7 linked regions of the Homo sapiens genome follow. The protein of the gene in region 1 interacts with the protein of each later gene in a pairwise test. Each region holds a gene or a part of one and is shown in the gene's direction. Other genes may lie near its edges.

Evidence for each region.
Region 2: the proteins of KLK6 (region 1) and SDCCAG8 interact in binary tests that used the Homo sapiens proteins (3 or more experiments, as listed by UniProt).
Region 3: the proteins of KLK6 (region 1) and EIF4B interact in binary tests that used the Homo sapiens proteins (3 or more experiments, as listed by UniProt).
Region 4: the proteins of KLK6 (region 1) and METTL13 interact in binary tests that used the Homo sapiens proteins (3 or more experiments, as listed by UniProt).
Region 5: the proteins of KLK6 (region 1) and FAAP20 interact in binary tests that used the Homo sapiens proteins (3 or more experiments, as listed by UniProt).
Region 6: the proteins of KLK6 (region 1) and BCAP31 interact in binary tests that used the Homo sapiens proteins (3 or more experiments, as listed by UniProt).
Region 7: the proteins of KLK6 (region 1) and TNFAIP8L1 interact in binary tests that used the Homo sapiens proteins (3 or more experiments, as listed by UniProt).

The regions. Positions count from the first base shown.
Region 1 is NC_000019.10:50,963,092-50,966,591, reverse strand, and holds part of KLK6 (kallikrein-6 isoform A preproprotein), read left to right. Parts: intron 1-2,081; exon of another isoform or gene 2,082-2,164; intron 2,165-2,925; exon of another isoform or gene 2,926-3,036; intron 3,037-3,042; coding exon 3,043-3,290; intron 3,291-3,500. UniProt on the Homo sapiens protein: Serine protease which exhibits a preference for Arg over Lys in the substrate P1 position and for Ser or Pro in the P2 position.
Region 2 is NC_000001.11:243,266,041-243,269,540, forward strand, and holds part of SDCCAG8 (serologically defined colon cancer antigen 8), read left to right. Parts: intron 1-1,580; exon of another isoform or gene 1,581-2,133; intron 2,134-3,500. UniProt on the Homo sapiens protein: Plays a role in the establishment of cell polarity and epithelial lumen formation. Also plays an essential role in ciliogenesis and subsequent Hedgehog signaling pathway that requires the presence of intact primary cilia for pathway activation.
Region 3 is NC_000012.12:53,037,456-53,040,085, forward strand, and holds part of EIF4B (eukaryotic translation initiation factor 4B), read left to right. Parts: coding exon 1-167; intron 168-900; coding exon 901-956; intron 957-1,782; coding exon 1,783-1,888; intron 1,889-2,174; coding exon 2,175-2,247; intron 2,248-2,630. UniProt on the Homo sapiens protein: Required for the binding of mRNA to ribosomes. Functions in close association with EIF4-F and EIF4-A. Binds near the 5'-terminal cap of mRNA in presence of EIF-4F and ATP.
Region 4 is NC_000001.11:171,794,938-171,798,216, forward strand, and holds the end of METTL13 (eEF1A lysine and N-terminal methyltransferase), read left to right. Parts: intron 1-1,544; coding exon 1,545-1,819; 3' UTR 1,820-2,779; downstream 2,780-3,279. UniProt on the Homo sapiens protein: Dual methyltransferase that catalyzes methylation of elongation factor 1-alpha (EEF1A1 and EEF1A2) at two different positions, and is therefore involved in the regulation of mRNA translation.
Region 5 is NC_000001.11:2,189,048-2,191,772, reverse strand, and holds the end of FAAP20 (Fanconi anemia core complex-associated protein 20), read left to right. Parts: exon of another isoform or gene 1-1,975; intron 1,976-1,991; coding exon 1,992-2,064; 3' UTR 2,065-2,225; downstream 2,226-2,725. UniProt on the Homo sapiens protein: Component of the Fanconi anemia (FA) complex required to recruit the FA complex to DNA interstrand cross-links (ICLs) and promote ICLs repair.
Region 6 is NC_000023.11:153,703,888-153,707,387, reverse strand, and holds part of BCAP31 (B-cell receptor-associated protein 31), read left to right. Parts: intron 1-3,293; coding exon 3,294-3,429; intron 3,430-3,500. UniProt on the Homo sapiens protein: Functions as a chaperone protein. Is one of the most abundant endoplasmic reticulum (ER) proteins.
Region 7 is NC_000019.10:4,638,371-4,642,315, forward strand, and holds the start of TNFAIP8L1 (tumor necrosis factor alpha-induced protein 8-like protein 1), read left to right. Parts: upstream 1-1,145; 5' UTR 1,146-1,259; intron 1,260-1,646; exon of another isoform or gene 1,647-1,789; intron 1,790-2,581; exon of another isoform or gene 2,582-2,630; intron 2,631-3,945. UniProt on the Homo sapiens protein: Acts as a negative regulator of mTOR activity.

The DNA.
Region 1 (3,500 bases):
TGACCTCAGGTGATCCGCCCGCCTCGCCCTCCCAAAGAGCTGGGATTACAGGCATGAGCCACCACCACACCCAGCCTGATTTACATTTTTACAAGCACCCTGGCTACCACGTGGAACGTGGTCTGGGCAAGAGAGAGGGAGGGAGGCCCACGTGGGGGCTGTTGCTTTCATCCGGCGACATAGGAGGGTGGCTTGAACCCAGGCGGTCGCAGTGGGGATGGAGGGATGTTGAATATCTTGGGATGTGGAATTCTGAGACTGAGCCAGCAGAATCTGGCAACGAGGAACAGGAGGGAGAGGAAGAAGCACGGCTGGCTTCCGTGTATTTGTCCTGAACAACTGGGTGTTTTGCCACGTCTTTCTCTGAGTTGTGGGAGAGGGAAAGAGAAACAGGCCGGGTGTAGGCAGGGGAGCATCTGACATTTTGCTTTAGCCACGATGAGTTGGAGATGCCGGGGAGATGTCCCAGCAGGGAGGCCAGGGAGGACTCTGGAGCTCAGAGGAGAGGTCAGGGCTGGAGGTTAAAATGAAGGCATCGTCAGCAAACAGGTGTATTTAAAGCCATGGGACTAGATGAGATCATCCAAAAAGCTGGCATAGTTGGAGGAGCTGGAGGGCCCAGGACAAAAACCCTGGGCGCTGATCCTCACTAGTCAGATTCACGACAGCTGCCACTTGTTTGATGCTAACTACCAATCAGGTGCTGAGTGAAACCATGTACACACCTTTCCTGGAATGCCCACCACAAGGGACTCTTGGCACCATTTTGCAAATGAGGAAACTGAGGTGCAGGGAAATAGCAAGTGACAATCCCTGGGGTGGTTCCCCTGACCCCAAGGAGACCTTGGATGACTCTCACCACCATCATTCATTCCTTTGATGTACATTGACTAAGAGCACCTGCTAAGTGCCACATTCGAGTTGGGCAGTGGAGATTCAGCAATGGATGGGACACACACGTCATCCCTGCCCTCGGGAGCACAAGGACAGAAAGGTGCAGACAAGCAAAGTGAGGGCTGGGCATGGTGGCTCACGCCTGTAATCCCAGCACTTTGGGAGGCCGAGGTGGGTGGATTACCTGAGTTCGAGACCAGCTTGGCCAACATGGCTCAACCCTGTCTCTACTGAAAATACAAAAAATTAGCCAGGCGTGGTGGTGGGCTTCTGTAATTCCAGCAACTTGGGAGGCTAAGGCAGGAGAATTGCTTGAACGTGGGAGGCGGAGGTTGCAGTGAGCCGAGATCGCGCCACTGCACTCCAGCCTGAACCACAGAGCGAGACTCTGTCTAAAAAAAAAAAAAGGAAAGAAAGAAGCAGCAAATTGGGCTGGCCGTGGTGGCTCATGCCTGTAATCCCAGCACTTTGGGAGGCCGAGGCGGGTGGATCACTCGAGCCCAGGAGTACAAAGCTGCAGTGAGCTGTGATCTACAGAACACCACTGCAGATCCAGCCTGGGTGACAGAGCGAGACCCTGTCTCAAAAAAACAAACAAACAAAAGAAGCAAACCCTTCAAAACCCCATATAATTACAAATTATGAAGGAAAAGAATACGGGTACCTACTTTAGATGGAGGAGGGTCAGGAAGGACTTTCTAATGAGATAAAATCCAAGCGGAGGCATGAAGATGGGAAAAGGAATGTTCAGGGCAGAGGAAAGGCTGTGATAACACCCCTGAGGTGAGAACCGTCTTGAGTATTCTCAGAAAATAAAATTTCCCGTTCACTGGGGGGCAGAAGGTGCTGGGAGATAAGGTTGGAAAGTGACTACAGCCAGATCACACAGGGGCTCCAGTGCCAAGTGGAGGAGCCCAGGCTTTATTCTTAGGACAATGGGGAGCCATGGGTGATGTCTGAGCAAGGGAGTGACTCTCTGTTTCAGGAATATGTATCAAACACCTATCCTGTGCCAGGTGCTGATCAACGCACTGGAGATACTATATCTGAATAGAACAAAAATCCCCATCTTGACATCCTAGAGCTGCACTGTCTAATATGGTAGCCATCAGCCACATATAGCAAATTACATTGAAATTAATGAAATGGAAAATCCACAAGCCACATTTCAAGTACTCAGCAGCCACCTGTAGCTTGTGGTTCCCCCAGCCACCTCTGGACAGTGCAGATCGAGATCATGGCATCGTAGCATTTAGTGGACAGCATTGCTCTGCAAGGAGGAGAAATAACACAATGAGTAAATATTTAACAATAAATATATAGCAGGTCGGATGATTGTGATAGGTTCTCTGGTGGAACAGAAAGCAGGGGAGGGAGATAGGAATTGCCTACTAACAGGTATTTGTATTTTAATTGGGCAACTAAGGAAGGCTTCCCTGAGAGGCGACATTTAAAGGAAGTGAGGGAGTGAGCTATGCAGATACTTGGAGGACAGACTTGCTGGCAGAGGGAACAGCAGTGCAAAGGCCCTGAGGTGGGAAGATCACTATTGTGTTCAAGGCAAGACAGGGAAGCCAGCGTTTGGCTGGAGCAGAGGGAGAGAAGGGGAGAGTGGGAGGAGAAGATGTCTGTGAGATGATGGGGCAGTGCTTGCAAGGCCTGGTGTGCCACGTTGAGAACTTTGGCTTTGATTCTGAGTGAGATGGGAGTCATAGGAGGGGCTGAGCAGAGGAGGCACAGGACCAACTTACATTGTTAAAATATCTCTGGTTGCTTTGTGGAGGATGGACTGTGGGGGACCAGAGACAGAGCAGGGAGCCCAGTGAGGAGGCTACTGCTCTAGTTCAGGTAGGAAGTGAAAAGGCAGCTCAAACCAAGATGGTAGCCGTGGGAAAGGTGAGATGTGGCCAGATTCTGGATATGCTTCAGAGAGGCAAAAGGAATTCTGGACAGCTTGGATGTAGGGCATGAAATAAAGAGAGTGAAGAATAGCCCCCAAGATTATTCTGAAAGGATGGAATTGCCATTTACCCAGCTGGGGAAGACTGTGGGAGGAGCAGGCCAGCGATTCATGACTTCCCAGCCCTCTCTGAAGCCTCAACTGCAGCCCAAGGGCTCCAGGTGAGACCCAGCCCTCTTCCTTCCCAGGAATCTTCAGGTCTTCCTGGGGAAGCATAACCTTCGGCAAAGGGAGAGTTCCCAGGAGCAGAGTTCTGTTGTCCGGGCTGTGATCCACCCTGACTATGATGCCGCCAGCCATGACCAGGACATCATGCTGTTGCGCCTGGCACGCCCAGCCAAACTCTCTGAACTCATCCAGCCCCTTCCCCTGGAGAGGGACTGCTCAGCCAACACCACCAGCTGCCACATCCTGGGCTGGGGCAAGACAGCAGATGGTCAGTAGTGGGAGGCTGGTGGGGAGCAGGCTACTGGCTACTTGGGGAAGTGTGCCAAAGGATGGGGAGTGGGAAAATTGGTGAGGGGCCATGGGAAGATGGGCTAATGGTGAGGACCAATGGGACAGGGTTTCAATGGGAGAAAGGTCAAGGGGGAGGGAGAGTGAATTTGGGAGCTGGGCCAGTGAGTGAACAGCCAATGGAAAATGT
Region 2 (3,500 bases), on another chromosome or scaffold:
TTTATTGTAAATTGACAATTTATAATTGTATAAATTTATGGGTTACAAAGTGATGTCATAAATTGTGGATACAATGTGGAATAATTAAATAAAGCTAGTTAACATATCCAATACTTCCAATACATTTCTGTGATGAGAACATCAATTTTGAAATGTGTAATACTCCATTATTAAGTATATGCACCACACTGTACAATAGAACTCAAAAAAAGTATAAAACATATTCTTCCTGTCTGAGATTTTGTACCCTTTGACCATCACTGAATTTTTTTTTCTTTTTCTTTTTTTTTTTTTATGAGACAGTCTCACTCTGTCACCCAGCCTGGAATGCAGTGGTGTGATCTCGGCTCACTGCAACCTCCGCCCCCCGGCTTCAAGCAACTCTGTTGCCTCAGCCTCCCCAGCAGCCAGGACCACAGGCACACAACACCACAACCTGCCAACCTTTTTTGTATTTTTAGTACAGATGGGGTTTTGTCACGTTGTTCAGGCTGGTCTTGAACTCTTGACCTCAGGTGATCCACCCACCTTAGCCTCCCAAAGTCCCAGGACCACAGACATGAGCCACTGTGCCTGGACTAAAATTTTTATGAGACAAAATATCAATTTCAAAACAGCATCAAAAAGTGAGTAGGCCAGGCACGGTGGCTCATGCCTGCAATCCCAGCACTTTGGGAGGCCGAGGTGTATTTTTCTGTACTAAAAATACAAAAGTATTTGTCTCTATTATAAATACAAAAAAAAAAAAAGAAATTAGCTGGGCACTGTGGCACATGCCTGCAATCCCAGCCACTCAGGAGGCTGAGGAAGGAGAACCATCTGAACCCTGGAGGCAGAGCCACAGTGAGCTGAGACTGCACTACTTGCACTCCAGCCTGGGCAACAAGAGTGCAACTTCGTCTCAAAAAAAAAAAAAAAAAAATGCTGGGCGCGGTGGCTCACGCTTGTAACCCCAGCACTTTGGGAGGCCGAGGCAGGCGGATCACAAAGTCAGGAGATCGAGACCATCCTCGCTAACACGGTGAAACCCTGTCTGTACTAAAAGTACAAAAATTAGCTGCGCGTGGTGGCGTGTAACTGTAGTCCCAGTTTCTCGGGAGGCTGAGGCAGGAGAATGGCGTGAACCTGAGAGGCGGAGGTTGTAGTGAGTGAAGATCGCACCACTACACTGCAGCCTGGGCGACAGAGCGAGACTCCGTCTTAAAAAAAAAAAAAAGAAATATACATGATAGGAATTCCAGGAATCTTATGGATTCTTCTTTTAAGGTCCCGGTCACTGGGCGTGGTGGCTTACGCCTGTAATCCCAAGACTTTTGGAGGCTGAGACGGGCGGATTTCACCTGAGGTCGGGAGTTTGAGACCAGCCTGACCAACGTGGAGAAACCCCGTCTCTACTAAAAAAAAATACAGAATTAGCCGGGCGTGGTGACAGGTACCTGTAATCCCAGCTATTGGGGAGGCTGAGGCAGGAGAATCGCTTGAACCCGAGAGGCGGAGGGTGCGGTGAGCCGAGATTGCGCCATCGCACTCCAGCCTGGGCGACAAGAGCCAAACTCCCTCTCAAGAAAAAAAAAAAAAAAGTCCCGGTCAACTGTGGGCACAATGTAACACTTACACACACTTAGGCTGAGTTACTCTCTGTACTAAGCAGTCATGTGCATAGGTTCCTGTGTGTGTACATGGTAATTGTTCAAATCTTGGATCCTTGGCGATCCTTAGAGCCACTCAATACTTCTGCCCCAATTTCTCAATTTCAGCCATTACACAATCAGTTATACAAGGGATACACTTGACATGCAGACAGCCCATCATTGACTGCACTAAGTCCAGTTTGGCTTTTATGGAAAAGTTGATAAAGTTGGTATCAACGAGGATGTGGTAAGGTGGGCCCAGCTGTGTATTATATTGGCAAAATAATCAGGAAAGGTGTTGCGGAACTTCTCTTTCCTTTAACGCGCTGGGATCCTTCTTTTCTTTCTCTTTAGGTTTTAATCTATCCTTTTCTTTAAGCCTCTGATCTCTGAGACTAAGCGTTTGCTTCATGGTTGTATAGTTCCTCATTTTCTTTTGCTTCCTCATGGTCACACCACACTCCTGTTTCTTCCGTAATCACCAACGGTGCAATGCTTTTACCTGGAATACATTTTTATGTTAGTCAAACTGTCTCGTTCCTTTCTAATAGATTCAATAAAGATAAGTGTTTTATTCGTGGATTTAAGGGCATAAATCTAAAGCTCCATGAACTGAATTGCTTATCATGTAACACTTTGATTTTCCTTTTCCATGACCAAATCGCTTTTCTATTCTATTTTCTAATACTAAGTTATTGTAAAACTATCACAGTTTCATATATTCCCAAAACCAGGAATGCGTCTTATCTGAACTTCCTTAAACTCATGATGAGTCAGAGGAGGCCAGTTTTCATTAGTAATCAGCGCCAAATTCATTTCAAAGAAAGATCTGTGTGGACATAGGATTGGTATGGAGAAAAATATGGTGATAAATTAACTGTGTCTCTTGTATAGTTGAGTAATAGAATTTCATTGTCGAACCCTGACCTGAAATACATGTTTTCTTTTATCAAAGTAGAAAATGAGTTGCTGCAAGTAAAGAAACTGTATTAGATATTGTATAACAGAGACTTTTTTTTTCTATTAAGTACTAACATTGCTTTTGTTTCTGTTCCAAACTTTGAAATCAGTGCACTTGGACAAAATGGAAACTGCTTTTCAAGGTCCTACAGAATATATGTTTATAAATGTATTTTTATACATGGTTGGTAATGAATCAGGTCTCTTTCGTGCCATTGCAGTTAGAGGGCCTCTGGTGCTGGAGTCCTCTGGAGGACTGGGCTGTCAGAGTGGGGCAGCGGGGTGCAGCGCGGGGAGGGCTTTTCTCTTTCTTCGTGCCTCTGGTGCTGGAGTCCTCTGGAGGACTGGGCTGTCAGAGTGGGGCAGCGGGGTGCAGTGCGGGGAGGGCTTTTCTCTTTCTTCATGGGGTCTCAGGGCCTCTCTCTTCCTCTCCACGTATGCTCTTCACAGGTCTCTCCAGCAGGGTAGTCAGATATCTTACATAGCGGCTTAGGGCTCCCAAAAGCAAACATTCCAAGAGGAAGCAGAAGCTGCCAGTCCTTTTAAAGATGAGGCTTGGGTGTGACATGGTATAACTTTTATTGCATTCTATTGGTTAATGCAGATTACAGGCCCAGTCAGTTTCAGATTAGAAGAGAACAAGGGAATGAGGCTGGGTTCCTTGGAGGCTATTTTTTTTTTTTTTTTTTTCTGAAACAGTCTCGCTCTCTTGCCAGGCTGGAGTGCAGTGGTGCGATCTCGGCTCGCTGCAACCCCTTGGAGGCTATTTTTAGAGATGAACTATCACAGTAATATACCTTAAAATACTTCATTTTAGACAGTTTTTGTGTGTTCTAGGGGTGGTCAGTTGCACTAACCAAGAATCTATGAGGTGTGGTTGGCCAGCAGTATATAGAAAGAGCTGTACCG
Region 3 (2,630 bases), on another chromosome or scaffold:
AATAAGGAGGAAGATTGCCACTCTCCAACTTCTAAACCTCCCAAACCTGATCAGCCCCTAAAGGTAATGCCAGCCCCTCCACCAAAGGAGAATGCTTGGGTGAAGCGAAGTTCTAACCCTCCTGCTCGATCTCAGAGCTCAGACACAGAGCAGCAGTCCCCTACAAGGTGAGTCAGTTTGGAAACAGTAGTTGGTTAACTGCAGATTCTAAAATACTGTGATGTAATGATGGAAGATCTCCTACGGGATGCCAGCGTTGTATAGCACCTTATAAGTTATGCTGGCTTTAGTCTCTTAGTGTGCTGGAACTGGCTCATAAGACCTAGTTGTTCCATTTTCTGGAGTTCCACCACTTTGATAGCTTGAAATCAGCTATGATGGGAGTACTAATGCCGCACAAATCTGCAAATACTGTAAGTCAGAGGCTTCCCTTTTGCCACATATTGGCAGTATGGTAGGGGGTAACTTCCTTTCATTTCTCTTAAGTCTTCTCATTTGTAAGCAAAATAGCAACACTATTAGCCTGGCGTGGTGGCAGGTACCTGTAATCCCAGCTACTCGGGAGGCTGAGGCAGGAGAATTGCTTGAACCTGAGAGCGGAGGTTGCAGTGAGCCGAGATGTGCCATTGCACTCCAGCCTGGGCGACAGAGTTAAGACTCCAAAAGAAAAGAAAATAGCAATACTAATCCTGCATGATGTGATGATTAGAAAGCATATGGCACTTTAGTGTTCAAATTACTGCTTTCATTGTAATCTTTCCCATATTTTAATGTTCCATAACATTGAGTATGATTTTGTTTTCTATAAAGCTTACCCACTGCATTTGGAGGATGATTATGTTTCTTGGTTGTTTTCTCCCTGAAACAACTGATGAATGTGATTACCTGTTTTCCTTCTAGTGGTGGGGGAAAAGTAGCTCCAGCTCAACCATCTGAGGAAGGACCAGGAAGGAAAGGTGAGCTCATAGTATGGGAAATAGGTTTTTCACCTAGAAGCCTAAATAAAAAGGCCTCCAAAATTAGATTTTGAAGAGCAGTGTGTCTCGCACCTGATACCGTGTTAAGAGTTCTTGGGTTGGCCAGGCGCAGGGGCTCACACCTGTAATCCCAGCACTTTGGGAGGCCAAGGCGGGCAGATCACAGGGCAGGAGTTTGAGACCAGCCTTACCAACATGGTGAAACCCCGTCTCTATTAAAAATACAAAAAAAATTAGCCGGGTGTGGTGGCACATGCCTGTAATCCCAGCTACTCGGGAGACGCTGAGGCAGGAGAATTGCTTGAACCCGGGAGACGGAGGTTGCAGTAAGCCAAGATGGCCCCACTGCACTCCAGCCTGGGCGACAGAGCAAGACTCTGTCTCAAAAAAAAAAGAATTATTGGGTTATCTACCTTTTCTTGCCAGTAGAGGGAGGAGTGGCCTCTTTGGAGAAAGTATGAAACCCTGCCCTTTCCTGGTAGAACATTTCTTTGACGGGGAGAAAAAAATCGGAAGGAAATTAACCAAGGTCACTACAGAGCGTCATAATCTTTATTTCCAGCTTGCTTTTCATGATGGCATATCCCTACATGGAACTTTTTAGTGGATTTTGTTTGTTTTTTGTATTTTTGTGTGCTGTAGAGGATGTGGAAAGAAGGGCTTCAGGAAGGAAGTCTGGGTTGGGGTGAGGTTAGTTTCCCTCAGTACATGTGGGCACAATTTTCTTCAGCTTAAGGGAAATCTTAGGAGAGGGACATTGATACTTTTACTTGCCTTTAATTTGTTTACATTACTGCCCAAGCAGATGAAAATAAAGTAGATGGGATGAATGCCCCAAAAGGCCAAACTGGGAACTCTAGCCGTGGTCCAGGCGACGGAGGGAACAGAGACCACTGGAAGGAGTCAGATAGGTATGCTTGTTCTCTTTCTCATCTTTCCTCTGATCCACATGTTTGTGTAATTAAGAAATTAAGTTCTTGGTTCTCAGAGCACTGCCAGATCGCTCATTGTGAGCAAACTAAAGTCAGCCAACGTAGACAGTTAAGATTCTGAAAATCTAGAAGTAATACATCATCCAGACAACAAGGACTGTTGACTAGAGGTGCCTGTTCAGTGCCTTGAAACTGCATGCATACACATGTTTGTATTAGGCGAGTCCTTTCCTAAAGACATGGTTTTATGCTTACGTCTCTGCAGGAAAGATGGCAAAAAGGATCAAGACTCCAGATCTGCACCTGAGCCAAAGAAACCTGAGGAAAATCCAGCTTCCGTAAGTGTTGAAGGCTGCTCCCAATTTTTCATTCTAAGAAAAATTCTTAGAATTCTAAGTATTCTTACTAAGAATTAAAAATTCTTAGTATTCTAAACTTTTTGCCGTTGGACTTCTTTCCATTTGGAATACAAAGTGTTTGGAAATAAGACATTGGTCTTTACTGAAATAGCGAAAGAAGTTTAGCTTTTTCCTGGTTTCTGTCTTCCTTTGTTCTCATCCCTTCTGCAAGGTGTAGAGGTGGTATGAGACTATAGTAAGATCGCATGTGCCTCTGACCCTCTTCCCTAGCTCCTCTCCAATGGACAATGCTGATGAGCAAGCAAGTGGGTGTCATCTGACTGTCATCCCCCATTGCCAAAGGATCAGTATCCTGTGTCTTG
Region 4 (3,279 bases), on another chromosome or scaffold:
GTCACCTGAGTAGCTGGGACTACAGGTGGATGCCACCATGCCTGGCTAATTTTTTTATTTTTATTTTTTGTAGAGATAGGATCTCAACATGTTGCCCAGGCTGGTCTCAAACTCCTAGCCTCAAGCGATCCTCCTACCTTGGCCTCCCAAAGTGCTGGGATTACAGGCATGAGCCACTGAACTTGGCTGAATGTACTCTTTAAGTGTCCATTTTCTTTCACTCAACATGATGTTTGTGAGACTCATTCACAGTGTTGTGTTTACATGGCTTATTTTTATTGCTGTGTTATATCATGTAACTTAACACAATTCGCTTATCCATTCTACTGTTCGTATTTGGTTTGTTTCCTGTGTGGGTCTATTATAAGTGGTGCTGCCATTAACATTCTAGTATATGCCTTTTGATGAATTATGTTTTCAGATCTCTTGGGTATATACACAGGGTTGTAATTGCTGGATCATAGGTTATGGGTATGTTTTTGGCTTTTGTAGATGCTACCACACAGTTTTACAAAGTGGTTGTAGCAGTTCACACTCCCACCAGCATGGTGATGCTAGCTACTACATGATGCTTCCTACACGTGCTCTACTAGGCAGTGTGTTATTTAATCTTCATAGCAGTCCACTTTTTGGATGAGGAAACTGAGGTTGAAGATTTGCCAAGGTGACGCAAGGTAACAGTTGGGGCTCAAAGTCAGTGCCTTGTCACCTCAAAACTGGAGCCTTTAATCCCTATGTTAACAACCCTCTAGGTATTTTTGATTTGGTGTAAGGCACTGTGGTAACTGGCTTGATTTGGAATCTTAATTGTCAGAAGTCAAGATAACCTCGGCCCTGTCACTGGTTAATACTCTATGGTGTGTATGCCAAGAATGTAATATCCCTGTGGAGTTGGTAAATTTTACTTTCGTAGGGAATCACTTTCTATTGATTGATTGAGACAAAGTCTCATTCCGTCACCCAGGCTGGATTTTGGCTCACTGCAACCTCTGCCTCCTGGGTTCAAGAGATTCTCCTGCCTCAGCCCCACTAGCAGCTCCTGCCTCAGCCTCCCTAGCAGCTGGGATTACAGGCGTCCACCACCATGCCCAGCTAATTTTTATATTTTTAGTAGAGCCGGGGTTTCACCATTTTGGCCAGGCTGGTCTCAAACTCCTGACTTCGAGTGATCCGCCTGCCTCAGCCTCCCAAAGTGATGGGATCATAGACATGAGCCACCGTGCCCAGCTGGGAATCACTTCTTTCTCAAAGCTATTCTTTGAGAAGCTATTTGGGAAACTGAGGCTTGGAGAATGGTAAAATAACATGTGAGCAGCACAGAAGAGCAAGAAATAAGGCTGGAGTTTGTTTATGGCTCACATGCTCCCCATGCTTTTCTCCATCTGCCTTTCTATGCTGTGTATTCTCTGCAAACTCATCACCACCGTGTGTTTTAGTCCACCAGTCTCCCTGGGACAGGAATTGGTATTTTCCTCAAAGCCGATCCTTGTCTTTCATATGTCTCCTGATGTGAGGTCATTCTGACTTTTCTTCCTACCCTATAGGTGTTTTTATTCTCAACCTTGTGTGCCGAGACTTGGGGCTAAAAGACTCAGTGCTGGCTGGGCTCAAGGCAGTGTTCCCCCTCCTATATGTCCGGCGAATTGAGGGTGAAGTGAATGAGATCCTGTTCTGTCAGCTGCACCCTGAGCAAAAACTTGCCACACCAGAGCTCCTAGAAACAGCCCAGGCTTTGGAGCGGACCCTGAGGAAGCCTGGGAGGGGTTGGGATGACACGTATGTCTTGTCAGATATGCTCAAGACGGTGAAAATTGTGTGACTGCTTAGGCCAAGCAGCCCTCCTGCCTAGACTGACCTTGGACTCCCAGCCTGCCAGAGAATGAAGAAATACAACGCACAGTACTTTTGAAGCTTCGTATTTTTCTTGGTTTCACACTCAGCTACATGTGACCTCCAGCTTGGTGAGGTTGCCTGAAGATTAGGGAAAATAAAAATGTCCTTCCCATCTTGTCCTCTTCAGTACCACTTGGGTTGGTTTGTCTTTGCTTCCTACACCACGTCCTTGAGTGGAGTTCCCTGCTGAAGCCCCTAGCACACACTGCATGCCTTAACAAGTGTGTGCAAGCCCCTCAGAACTCAAGACATCCAAATTTTATTGCGTCTCTACTTATACTGGTTTGCTTTTGATTTATTCCTCTATTAGTTCTATAGGAGTGATCTCAAGTGAGATAGCAGAGCAAGATGCCAAAAGACCATAAATAGAGTAAGGTTTCTATAGATGTGAGACAGATTTGAGAGAGCATTTACTCTGTCTCCCTGTGGATGAAACTGCTGCTGAAATGGTTCCAATTTTTAGGAATCTGCTTACCCACTTCATTATTTGACAGCTTTCCTTGGTGACCCAAACCTTGTAGCCTAAGCCATTTGTCTTTTTCTCAGTGGAGGGAGTGTATGGACCTGGCCCCATGGCTTTGCATGTTAGAGACCTGGCAGACTAAAGTCTCTAGTGTTTGTTTGCTCACATTTGCTGAGTGACAGCTATGTGCCAGACTGCATAAAGGGTGGTGGCAGAAGTGAAAATGTTTAAGAATGACCAAAAACATTAGTAATGAAAGTTAATGTGTTCCAGGCATTCTTCTAAGTGGTTTACATGCACTGTCTCATTTAATCTGAGATAAAGGATACTTAAGCCCAAACTATATCTAAACCCAAATCTCACTTGGCTGGAAACATCAATCTTAACCATTTATTCAGAACCATTAAACCAATGATTCCAAGACTGGCTTGAATTTTGTCTTTCCTAATTATACCGAGGTTGACTTAATGAGCAGTGCCATGGAAAATAGGCATTGTCACCATTCACCACCTGGCTCTTCTTTCCACAGGCCCTTTAAAAATGGACCCTGACCTTTCAGTTGAAGCATACAGATGCTCTTCAGCCTACGATGGGGTTATATCCTGATAAATCCATCATAAGTAGAAAATGCATTTAATACCCTGATAACCCATTGTAAACTTGAAAAATTGTAAGTCAGAGACTGTCTGTATTTCAGTTAGGTTGTCATCCTTAGAAAGTAGTGTCAGTCTGTTAAGGAGAGGAGGGAGTGCAGAGAAGTGTTTTTAGATCTTACCCATTAGAAATACTTGGTTCTCTTTCTTTAGGAGGGGATCTTCCCCTGGAACCCCGTAACGGGAAGATTATCCCTCATGTCAGGTCTGTGTACCCCAGAGGACCTTACTTGGCAAGTCCTTTCTTTTTTCTTCCTTGTTTTTGAGACA
Region 5 (2,725 bases), on another chromosome or scaffold:
TGGGTTGGTCACTGGGATTTTTTTTTTTTTTTGAGACGGTGTCTCGCTCTGTCGCCCAGGCTGGAGTGCAGTGGCATGATCTCGGCTCACTGCAACATCTGCCTCCCGGGTTCAAGCGATTCTCCTGCCTCAGTCTCCTGAGTAGCTGGGATTACAGGCGTCACCACACCTGGCTAATTTTTGTATTTTTAGTAGAGACAGGGTTTCACCATGTTGGTCAGGCTGGTCTTGAACTGATCTCAGGTGATCCGCCCGTCTCGGCCTCCCAAAGTGCTGGGATTACAGGCGTGAGCCACCGCGCCCGGCCGGTCGTTGGGATTTTAACAGCCCTGAGGCCCCTCACGCTGCCAGGTGCCAGCCCACCCTGCAGCCCTGCTCCCCTGCCCACACGCAGAAGCCACCAGAGGCTTCTGGACTGAGCCCCCACTGTCCTGCAGCCGGGCTGGCCTGTCCACACCACAGGGCGTGCTCAGCTACTGAGCAGAAGCGTCACGGACAGGGCAGATCAGGCCAGGACAAAGCTCTTCCGCCACAGGCGGGGGTCTGAAGGCATCTCAGAGGGCCCCCAAACAAGGGACGCTGCCTGGAAACCCCGGGACAAGATGACCTCGGTTCAGATCTTAGCACCTTCTGGCAACCTTAGAGAAAGCTTCTGGAGGGAGGGGCTGGTTCCCAGGATGGGCAGAAGCCGGAAAGTCTCAGACTGAGTGACCCTCGGGGGCTTCAGAAGGCACTGGGTGGGCTCTGCCAGAGTGAGAAGGCAGCTGATGGCTGCTGGAGCCAGCCCCGGGAGTGGGGGTCCAGCTATGGTCTGGAGAGGGGGACTTGAGGGTTGCAGTGGCCACACAGACGGGGCACAGGAGCCAAAGGAAGGGACACAGCAAAGCCCAAGGGTAAAACGGCGCGCCGTGGACTGGTCTGAGGGCAGAGGCTGTAGGGGAGCGAGGGGCGGTGTGGCTGACAGGTGGACACAGGGACACGTGTCCTGTGGACTTGGCCGCTCAGTGGGGGTGTGTCCCCCAGCAGTGGCGTGTGAGGGATGGTCACTCTGATGGGACACTGACCACTTGGCCTCCAGCAAGATCTAGGCCCAAGTCTAGGCTGAAGCCGCCCACTCAGCCCCGGGACATCGTCCCCGGCAGCTCTGCTGAGCACGCCAGCTCCGGCACTCTCCGGGAGTCATGGCCGGAAGTCAACTGTCCTGGCTTCCAGGGCCACACCTTGGCCAGGCCTGGTGATGGTCATTTCCAGCCGCTCCAGTTGGGCTGATGGGGCCACATGAGGCCGGGGATAGAAGGTGGCTGCGCTCAGACACCCCTCCCGGCCCCACTGGATGCCCAGGGCGCTGACCTGCAGGACTCGGATGGGTTTTCTCCTGCCACCCCTGCCTGGCCGGCCACCATCCCAGCGCCAGCGCCCTCCTGAGAGGTGCAGGGGCCGCGTGGGGCCTCCCAGAGTGGCAGGTTGGCAGCCTGCACGCCGGTGACGGCGTCCTTCTCCGTGGTGAGGCTTGGTCCCTCCTCGCCAGAAACACCAATTCTCTGACGTGAGCTGCACATCCACTGCCCAGCCATGTTTACTCTTCTGCCTCCTGTAGACGCAGCCGCGGCGGCTCTCCCTGGCAGGCCACCCGCCGTCCTGCCTTTTCTCCGGGTCAGGCCGCCTGTCTGCCGGGCTCCACGATGAGCGCGTTCTCAAGCTGAGCAGGCGCCAGAATCCCATAGAGAGGCTTGTTGAGACACAGCTTCCCCACCCCCAGCTCGGACGCAGGGGCCTGGCGTGGCCTCCTCACGGGCACGGTGTGGAAACACCACTGGCGGTTACCGTGGTCTGCCGGGTGCATGAGCCCCTGGGGTGGCCCCGTCCCTTGTTTCTGACCAGCCGGATCCTCTCCAGCGGCAGGAGCAGAGAGGGCCCGGAGGTCCAGACGGTGCTCTCTGCGGCCAGCATGCCGCGGAGGTGGCCGAGTGAGTGTGGCCCCTCCCTTGCAGGCTGACCCAGCTGGATGTTGACAGCCACCTGGCCCAGTGCTTGGCCGAAAGCACAGAAGACGTGACGTGGTGAGCGCCATCCAAGAGCCCTGCGCAGAGTGCGGCGCCCGGACACGCTCTCCCCCGCCAGCAGCCCCGCCTCTCGGCTCCCCCGCCAGCAGCCCCGCCTCTCGGCTCCCCCGCATGCGCATTAAAGCAGGGCGGGCTCCTGTCTGTCTCTGTGTTGTGATGAAACGTCTGCCGCTTTTCTTTCTGACGTTTGGTTTAGGGCAGATTCACTGCAGTGCAATCAGAACCAGACACAGCCCCAGGCGGGGAAGCTGACCCCTTTCCCCTGGCGCCCCCACTGTGGACAGCGGACGGGCTGAGGGTAGCTCGTTTTCCTAACTTTGTGGACAGGCGTGGTTAGCTCATGTGCAGTCACGGTTTTTTTTTTGTTTTTTTTTTTTTGAGACAGGGTCTCGCTCTGTCGCCCAGGCTGGAGTGCAGTGGTGCAATCACGGCTCATTGCAGCCTCAGACTCCTGGGCTTGATGATCCTCCCACCTCAGCCTCCTGAATAGCTGGGACTACAGGCGCGCGTCACCACACCCAGCGACTTTTAGTATTTTTTGTACAGATGGAGGGGTCTTGCCATGTTGCCCAGGCTGGTCTCGAACTCCTAGGCCCAAGCGATCCTCCCGCCTTGGCTTCCTGAAGTGCTGGGATTACAGGCGTGAGCCAGCAGCCCCAGCC
Region 6 (3,500 bases), on another chromosome or scaffold:
CCCCTTTTTTTTTTTAGCTATACTTGCTGGAGTGGGCGGAAGACCCCTTTTCAGTGTGCCAGGTATGGGAGTGCAGAGATGAAGGCACAGTGCCCAGCCTAAAGACCTTCATAGCCTGGTAGGGCAGCCATATAAACGGATGGCAGCCACGCAGAGAACAGAGAATGAGGTAGTTACATGCGGGTGCCTGGGGGGCTGCTGCAGGAGCCCCCAGAAGGCGTCCCTCTGATGGGGTGGGAGATCCAAAAGGGTTTCTGGGGGGAGGTGAGGATTGAGCTGGGTCGAGAGGACATTCCGGCCTGGAGAACTGCCACACAGAGCCAGGCGTGTTCCAGGAATGGTGAGGGGTTAGGTGTTACTAGAGCAGGGGGCCACGTGGTTAGTGAAGGAGGAGAGCTCACTGAGGGCATGCGTGCTGGCAGCAGGTGGCTTAAGCAGAGGGCTGACATGGTCGGATTTGCCTTGCTCTGGGAGGTGGATGGGAAAGCCGTATGGCAGCAGATAGGGAGGAGGCGCCAGCAGTGGGGATGATGGTGGGCATGTTTGCAGTTGACATGGAAAGTGCTGGGTTGTGGCTTGGGCTGGGGGCCAAGAGGGCTGAGTCCAAGGCGGTTTGCCTGCCCACCACTACAGCAGGGGCTACACGAGGTGGTCAGGTCAGGCAGGACAAGGGAAGGCCCGTTTTGGACAAGCTGAGTCTAGAATGTCTCTGGGGACATCCAGGAGCCAATGTTTAGCAGGAGGTTAGGTATGAGTCTGGGCCACAGAGAAAACCCTTTCGGGGATAAGAGTGGCTGGGAGGAAGGTATAGGGTGTCAGCTGAAGAGTGCAGACCCCAGAGGGAGCAGAATAACAGTGGGAGGAGGGTGTTGCGAGGGGACCTCAGGAGGGTAACTTAGCAGCAGAGCAAGGAGTTCAGGGTGACCTCCGGCCTGGGCGGTTAGGAGGCCACTGGTGGCCCTGCTGCTGGCTTGGAAGGGCAGGCCTTGGCCAGCCTAGGTTGAGGAATATATGGGAGGGAAAAGACCAGGGGCTTGGGCAGGGTGACTCCAGGAAGGAGGCAGTTGAAGGTGAGGTTCCTGGGGGGAGAATGATCCCGGGTCATCCAGCAGGAAGAGAGAGGACCTAGAAGGTGTGAAAAAGAACTATCGGGCTGGGGGTGCAGTGGGAGGAGTATGCCCGGGGTGCTGTGGGGGTGGGGAGCGCCTGTGAGGGTTGGCAAGAGGAAGGGGAACCGGGGCCTGGCAGAGGGGAGCCCCAGACTGTCTCAAGGCTGGGAACTGAAGGCCTGGGCTGGGGCTGAGCAGGGCCAGGCTTTCGGACACACACAGCGTGGATCTTGCGCTGGACTTTGTGTATGCCCTGGCCTATCTTGGAAGCCCTGGTTCTCAATAGCCGGGAAGGGCCTGGGACGGTCCGAAAAGAGCTGGGCCTCTGCTGCACTGCCGCGGAAGCATTTGTGTTAGCTATCTCCCTGGGTACTGGGGTGACAGCCATGGGCACTCACCAGCAGCCGCTTGCCTGGCCTGGTGGCGGGGAGTATAGCCTTCAGTCTTGCTTGGTCCTCTCTCTACCACCAGGTGGCATGACCCCCACCCCTCAATTCCAGCTGGGAGGAGCGGTCCTCTTCCTCTTTCTACATCACTGGGATCCGCTCTGGGGCTGGGCAGCTCCTTGCCGGGGGCCTGGGTCTTAGTCAGACTTGCCTTTCTTTCTAGGCCTCTCCATTGACTTCTGGCCATGCCGATGTGAGTCAGATGCATTGTTTCTCTCTGGCTCCTAGGGCGCTCAGTAGCTTCCTCCACCTTCAGGCTGTAGCCCAGTGCGGGGCAGGCTGGTGGGCAGCTGGGGGCTGAGGCAGGGAAACCTGAGCCCTAGGCCACGAGGTCCTGGGCCGCTAATTTTAGAAAGCACATGTCACTGGAAACTCTCCTTCTCTGCCAGGAATCAACGGCCTGGCTCTCCTGGTGCTGCCAGGGGCCCCTGGGAGCCTCTCCCCAAACCAGGAACCTCAGGGGTGTCTCCTGGCCCGGGTGGGTACTTTCTGTCCTGAGTACATCTGGAAAGGGGCTCTGCCGAGGCCCTGGAGAGCCATGGCTTGGGCCAGGGAGGTAGCTCACCTTGTCTGCTCTTTACTTTCTCCAGCCCTTCCGGGCTGCCCCTGGCCATGAGCAGAGGCTGTGAAGTGTGAAGGCCTGGCTGGGGCAGGAGGCCACTTCGACTCTTCTGAGTAAGCTGTTGTTGAAGCACTCTGGACTAAGCAGATTTGTCTCTTCCTTCCCCCAGGCCCTGTGTGACCCTTGCCTTCTGAGGTGTGTGAGAAAGGAACCCCTGCCTTGTTTTGACTGTTTGAACGAGTCCTTCCCTCCTCTCTTCCTGCCAGCTAACATCTCGGGGCAAGGGTGAACCAAGGGAAATGAAGTGGCCATTCCAATCTCTGTTTGGGGACTAGCATCTGCCTCCAGCTGCCACCTGTTTGCCTGTCTCTCCTGGCTGCTTCAGAGAGGCAGCCTGCGCCTGTGTCCTGATTCCTCTACACCCTCCAGCCCAAGAAGACCTCATTCGGGGTGCTGTTACATAACGGATGTGTTCCAGCGCAGCCTGCATGATGGGTTGGGAAGGAGGCTGGCCAGAGAAGAGAGTTCTATCTTACGTTGGGACCTGGGAGCTGTTCCCTGTTAGTTTAGAGAGCAGAGTGGTTCCGAGCTCAGGTTCTGGAGTCAGGCAGACATAATTTGGAATTCCAGCCATGTCCATTTCTGGTTTTTGGCCTTGGGTACATTGATTTACGCTGCTGAACTTCAGTTTCCTCTTCTATAAGCTGGGGCAGTGATAGTAACTTCCTCATCAGGTAGATGTGAGGATGCGGCCTGGCATGTTGGAAGTGCTTGGATTGATTAGCTTCTCTCGTTACCTTACCAAGGCAAGCCCAGCCTCGCAGGGAGGAAGGTGGTGCTGTGGCTTGTCTGGCACGTCTAGGCCCCGACCCGGAAAGTGCCGCGTTCTGGGACCTCATGCTGTAGCGAGGCTCTTCCCAGCCCCCCAGGCTCCTGCTTCCAGCCCCTCTGAGAGCTGAGGGTGGCCGTTGGGCACAGCGGCAGAGGACGGCTCCTGGGCCCCACCTTTTCCCTCACGCTGCCAGCACCAGGTTGGCGGCTTCTCACTCGGCTGCCTTGGCAAGAGGGCAGGTCCAGGCTGGAGCTAGGTGTGGAGTGGGAGCAACCAGGAGGTGCTCCTGCCAGCCCTTCATGCTCTTTTTCTCACTTCTCCCTTCTTTTTGTAAATAATTGCAGCCTGCTTAGACGCCTGGTGACTCTCATTTCGCAGCAGGCCACGCTGCTGGCCTCCAATGAAGCCTTTAAAAAGCAGGCGGAGAGTGCTAGTGAGGCGGCCAAGAAGTACATGGAGGAGAATGACCAGCTCAAGAAGGTGAGCCCAGCTTCCCGACCCACCATGGGGCGTCCTGGTGTTACACTGTGGGAGCCACATTCTTCAGGGCC
Region 7 (3,945 bases), about 46 Mb from region 1:
CAGGACACACAACAGGCCCTCAACAATTTGTTGTCTGGCTTCCTGGAGGAAGAAGCAGCGAGGTTGCTATGGGCTCCCTAGGCCCTAGCTGCAACCGGGACCCAGAGTTGGGCTGCAGGGCGGAAATGGTGCTGCAGGGGACCTGGGAGCAGCTCCAGGGCCTGGTTCCCAGGACTCACAGCTGCATCCTCCCCGGGGGACCCCAGCTGGCGCTGCGCAGCCGGGAGGCTCCTGTGTGTCCTGCAGGCTCATTCCTACGGAAATCGAGGCTGGACCTGGGGATCCTCTGATGAGGTCTCCAGGAGCCCTCCACCTCACCCCAAAGATTCATCTATAGCCCCACAACCCTGGGTTAGATTCATCCCTTCTTGTGGCACAGAACTCTGTATTTTTAAAATTTTAACTTATTTTGATCTTCTTCTTTTTCTTTCTTTCTTTTTTTTTTTTTTTTTGTAGAGACAGGGTCTCCCTAGGTTGCCCAGGCTGGTTTCAAACTCCTGGGCTCAAGGGATCCTCCTGCCTTGGCCTCCCAAAGTGCTGGGATTCCAGGCGTGAGGCACCACACCTAGTTGGAATCTGCATTTTAAAATGGACTCTCAGATCTTTCTGACGCGAAGGGTTCCCCGAGGCCGTACTTTGAGAAACACGCTTCTGCCGAAATTCCTATTACCCAGGCGGGTAAACTAGCCCCAGAAGGAGGAAGGGGCCCGTGCAGAACCACGTGGTTGGTCTGTTTTGCCTTTTGGCTCTCTGGTCTCTTCCTGTTGGTGTCTCTGTGCCTCCCTCCCCAGGTTCTCTGTCTGTCTCGTACTCTTATCTCTTCCCTTTTCTGTGGCCGGCACCCCCACGACGGCCTCGCCCCCGCATCCGGGCCCCTTCGCGATTCCGGAGGAATCCCCCAGAGCCGCCTGACCCCGCCCCCAGGCTCCGCCCCTTCCCCCCACTTCCCCCCCGTCGCAGTGCCCTGCTCCCATTGGCCTTTTCGTACATTGCCCGCCCTGTCATTGGCTAATCCGGAGCGCTCGGCCCGCCCCCCAGGCCTGGCAACTCTCCGGTCCCTTCCGCGCGGGCGGGGCGAGTGGAGGGCGTGGCCTGCCGAGGGGCGAGGCGAGTGGAGGGCGGGGCCGCGCTGCCCGCCCCGCCCCGGCCCCGGCCCCGGCTCCGGCGCTGCTCCCACCGCCGCGGCAACGGCCCCGGCCCACGGAGGCGGCTGGACGGACCCCCGACGGTTGGACGTACGGACTCTGCTTCGAGAGTAGGTGAGCGAGCAGTGCCGGGGCGCCCCCCATTTCAGCGCATCTCGGGGGCCACCTGGCCGCCCTCTGTCTCTCCCGCCCCTTAATGCTTCTGCACCCCACCGCCTGTCCGTCTACATTCCTGCCTCAGTTTCCGTCTGTCTCTCTGTCACTCTCGCTGTATAGGTTAGGGGGAGACAGATTGAGTCTCAATTGCCCCCCTTGGCGTGGGGCTCTGCTCTGGGACCAGCACCCCCATCCCCCATGTGGACTCTAGTGGACTCTGCCCCCTTTAACTGTAGGGCCGCAGGTGCTCAGGCCAGATTCCAGAACCCTGAGGGCATTCCAGGCGGTGGGCAGCTGGGCCAGCCGTGCGGAGGTGGGCATGACTGTAGCTTCTAGCTAAACCAGGCATCGGTCCAGGCATCGGTGGCGGGGAGCCAGGCCTAGGCCAGCCCGGGCCCACCCAGACTGGCCCCTAATGAGCTCCCAAGTGGCCTGTGGGGACTTGGCCTCAGTTTTGCCAGCTGTGAACTGGGACCGTCGCTGCTAAGGTAATTGGCAGGTGATCTGAAGGACACCTGCCGCCTCCTGGCCTTTTCTGTGAAGTCGAACTAGGCCCATTTCCTGGGATGGGAAACTAAGGCCTAGAAAGAGGCCAATGCTTCCAATGTTTGTCCAGGGAAGTGGGGACAGAGGCAGGACAGAATCTGTTTTCTCTGCATCCTCACATTTCCCAGCACCTTCTCTATGGAGGGGGGAAGGGCTGGTGGAGGAGCAGCCCCAGGTGTAAACAGGCCGCCAGAGTTTATTTCCTGAGCCAGTCCCAGCTCAGCTGGAGGCGATGAACGCCTTGGGAGGCCCCAGGGGGGCCAGCCCAGTGGTGGCGGAGCTTGGACCAATCTAGGTTTGAGCTCTGCCACCCGCATGATATCTTGAACCAGTTTTTCAATTCTGCGGAGCCTCAGTTTCCTCATCTGTAAAACAGGAGTGGGTCGTAACTCCCCAAGTTGAGGGCTGCTGGGGGATCAGATGCAGGAATACAGGCCCTGCTCATAACCTGCCTGACTCTCGCTGTGGCTCTGCCCCAGTCACACTGGCCTCCTCCTGTTTCTCCAACACCCCAGGCGAGGTCCTCTCTCAGGGCCTTTGCATGGGCTGTGCCCTCTGCCACTACGGCAGGTCCGAGGGCGCCAACTTTGAAACATAACAAGCTCCCTGGATGGGCCGGACCCAGGACCTGCACAGGCAAGGGCTGGGAGGGGCAGAGGAGGGGCCGCTCAGGGACGCTGTACCTATGGAAACCGTGAACAAAGGGCTGTCTCCAGCCACACAAACACCTGGGTGAATCGGGCACTGGCCAGAGGCTGGAGCAGCCTGGGATACAGGTGGTGGGTGAGTGCCTGGACCCCTGCAGGGAATATGGGGCCGGGGGGGGGACTTGAACCCTGCTCCAATGGTGGGGTGGCTCTGCAGACGGGTGCAGGTCTGAGGCCCCGCGGTACGGCCCCTCCCACTGTGTGGCCTTGGACCGACGGTCAGGTGCCCCCAGAGCCTCAGTTTCCTCATCCCCGTTCCCCCAGGGGTCAGCCCAGGTGGGTGAGGGGTCTTTTGATTGCTTGACAATTCAGTATGGTGGGTTCCGGAGGCCTCAGTGTCCCTGTCTGTCCAATGGGGCCACGAAAGGGTGCCTTGAGGACAAAACTCCAGCCGTTGACAGGGGAACACTCCTCCCAGAGAGACGTCAACGCTAAAAAATGACTCACACTTGCCCAGGTACAGCTCAGGTGTTACAGACGGGGAGCAGGGCAAGGAGGCAGAGCGAGAGGCAGGAACGGCCCAGTTCCACAGCATGCCTGCCCCTTCCCAGCATCTCCCGACACCCCTCAGCAGATGACCTCCCTGGAATCACACCCGCTCGAGCTTTGACGCAGGGACCTCTGGCAGAGTTCTTGGGATCTTGTAAATCCCCAGCTTCTAGGCCTCAGTTTCCCCATCTGTCCAATGGGGCTGGTCATCTCCTTTTTCTTGTGGGGCTGAGATAACTGTGGGGAGGGAGGGTGCTTTGAGGGGTGGGGGAGATTCAACAAGATATTGTTAAAAGCCCGAGGAGGGGATTACAGGACACAGTACTTCTAGAAGCTTCCTAAGGCTTCGATCCTTCCCCTCTGGGGTGGGCTCTGGGAGAGACGAGACTTGAACCCCAAATGTGCCATTGACTAGGATGAGGAAAGGATTGCACTAGGTTAAAGGCTGGGTTCAAATTCTGATTCTGCCACATCACTGCTTTATAAACAGGCAAGCTCCTGACCCTCTGTGACTCAGTTTCCTTATAACCAAAAACTTGCAGGTCCATCTAGAGAATTTCCCAGCCTGGGCAACATGGTGAAACCCTGTCTCTACTTAAAACAAAGAAAAAAAAATTAGCCAGGTGTGGTGTCGCAGGCCTGTAGTCCCAGCCACTCTGGAGGCTGAGGTGGGAGGATCACCTGAGCCCAGGGAGGTTGAGGCTGCAGTGAGCCGAGCTCATGCCACTGCACTTCAGCCTGGGCGACAGGAGTGAAACCCTGTCTCAAAGAAAAAGAAGAGAATTGGCTGGGCGCCGTGGCTCACGCCTGTAATCCCAGCACTTTGGGAGGCTGAGGTGGCCGGATCACCTGAGGTCAGGAATTCGAGACCAGCCTGGCCAAGAGGGCAAAACCCTGTCTCT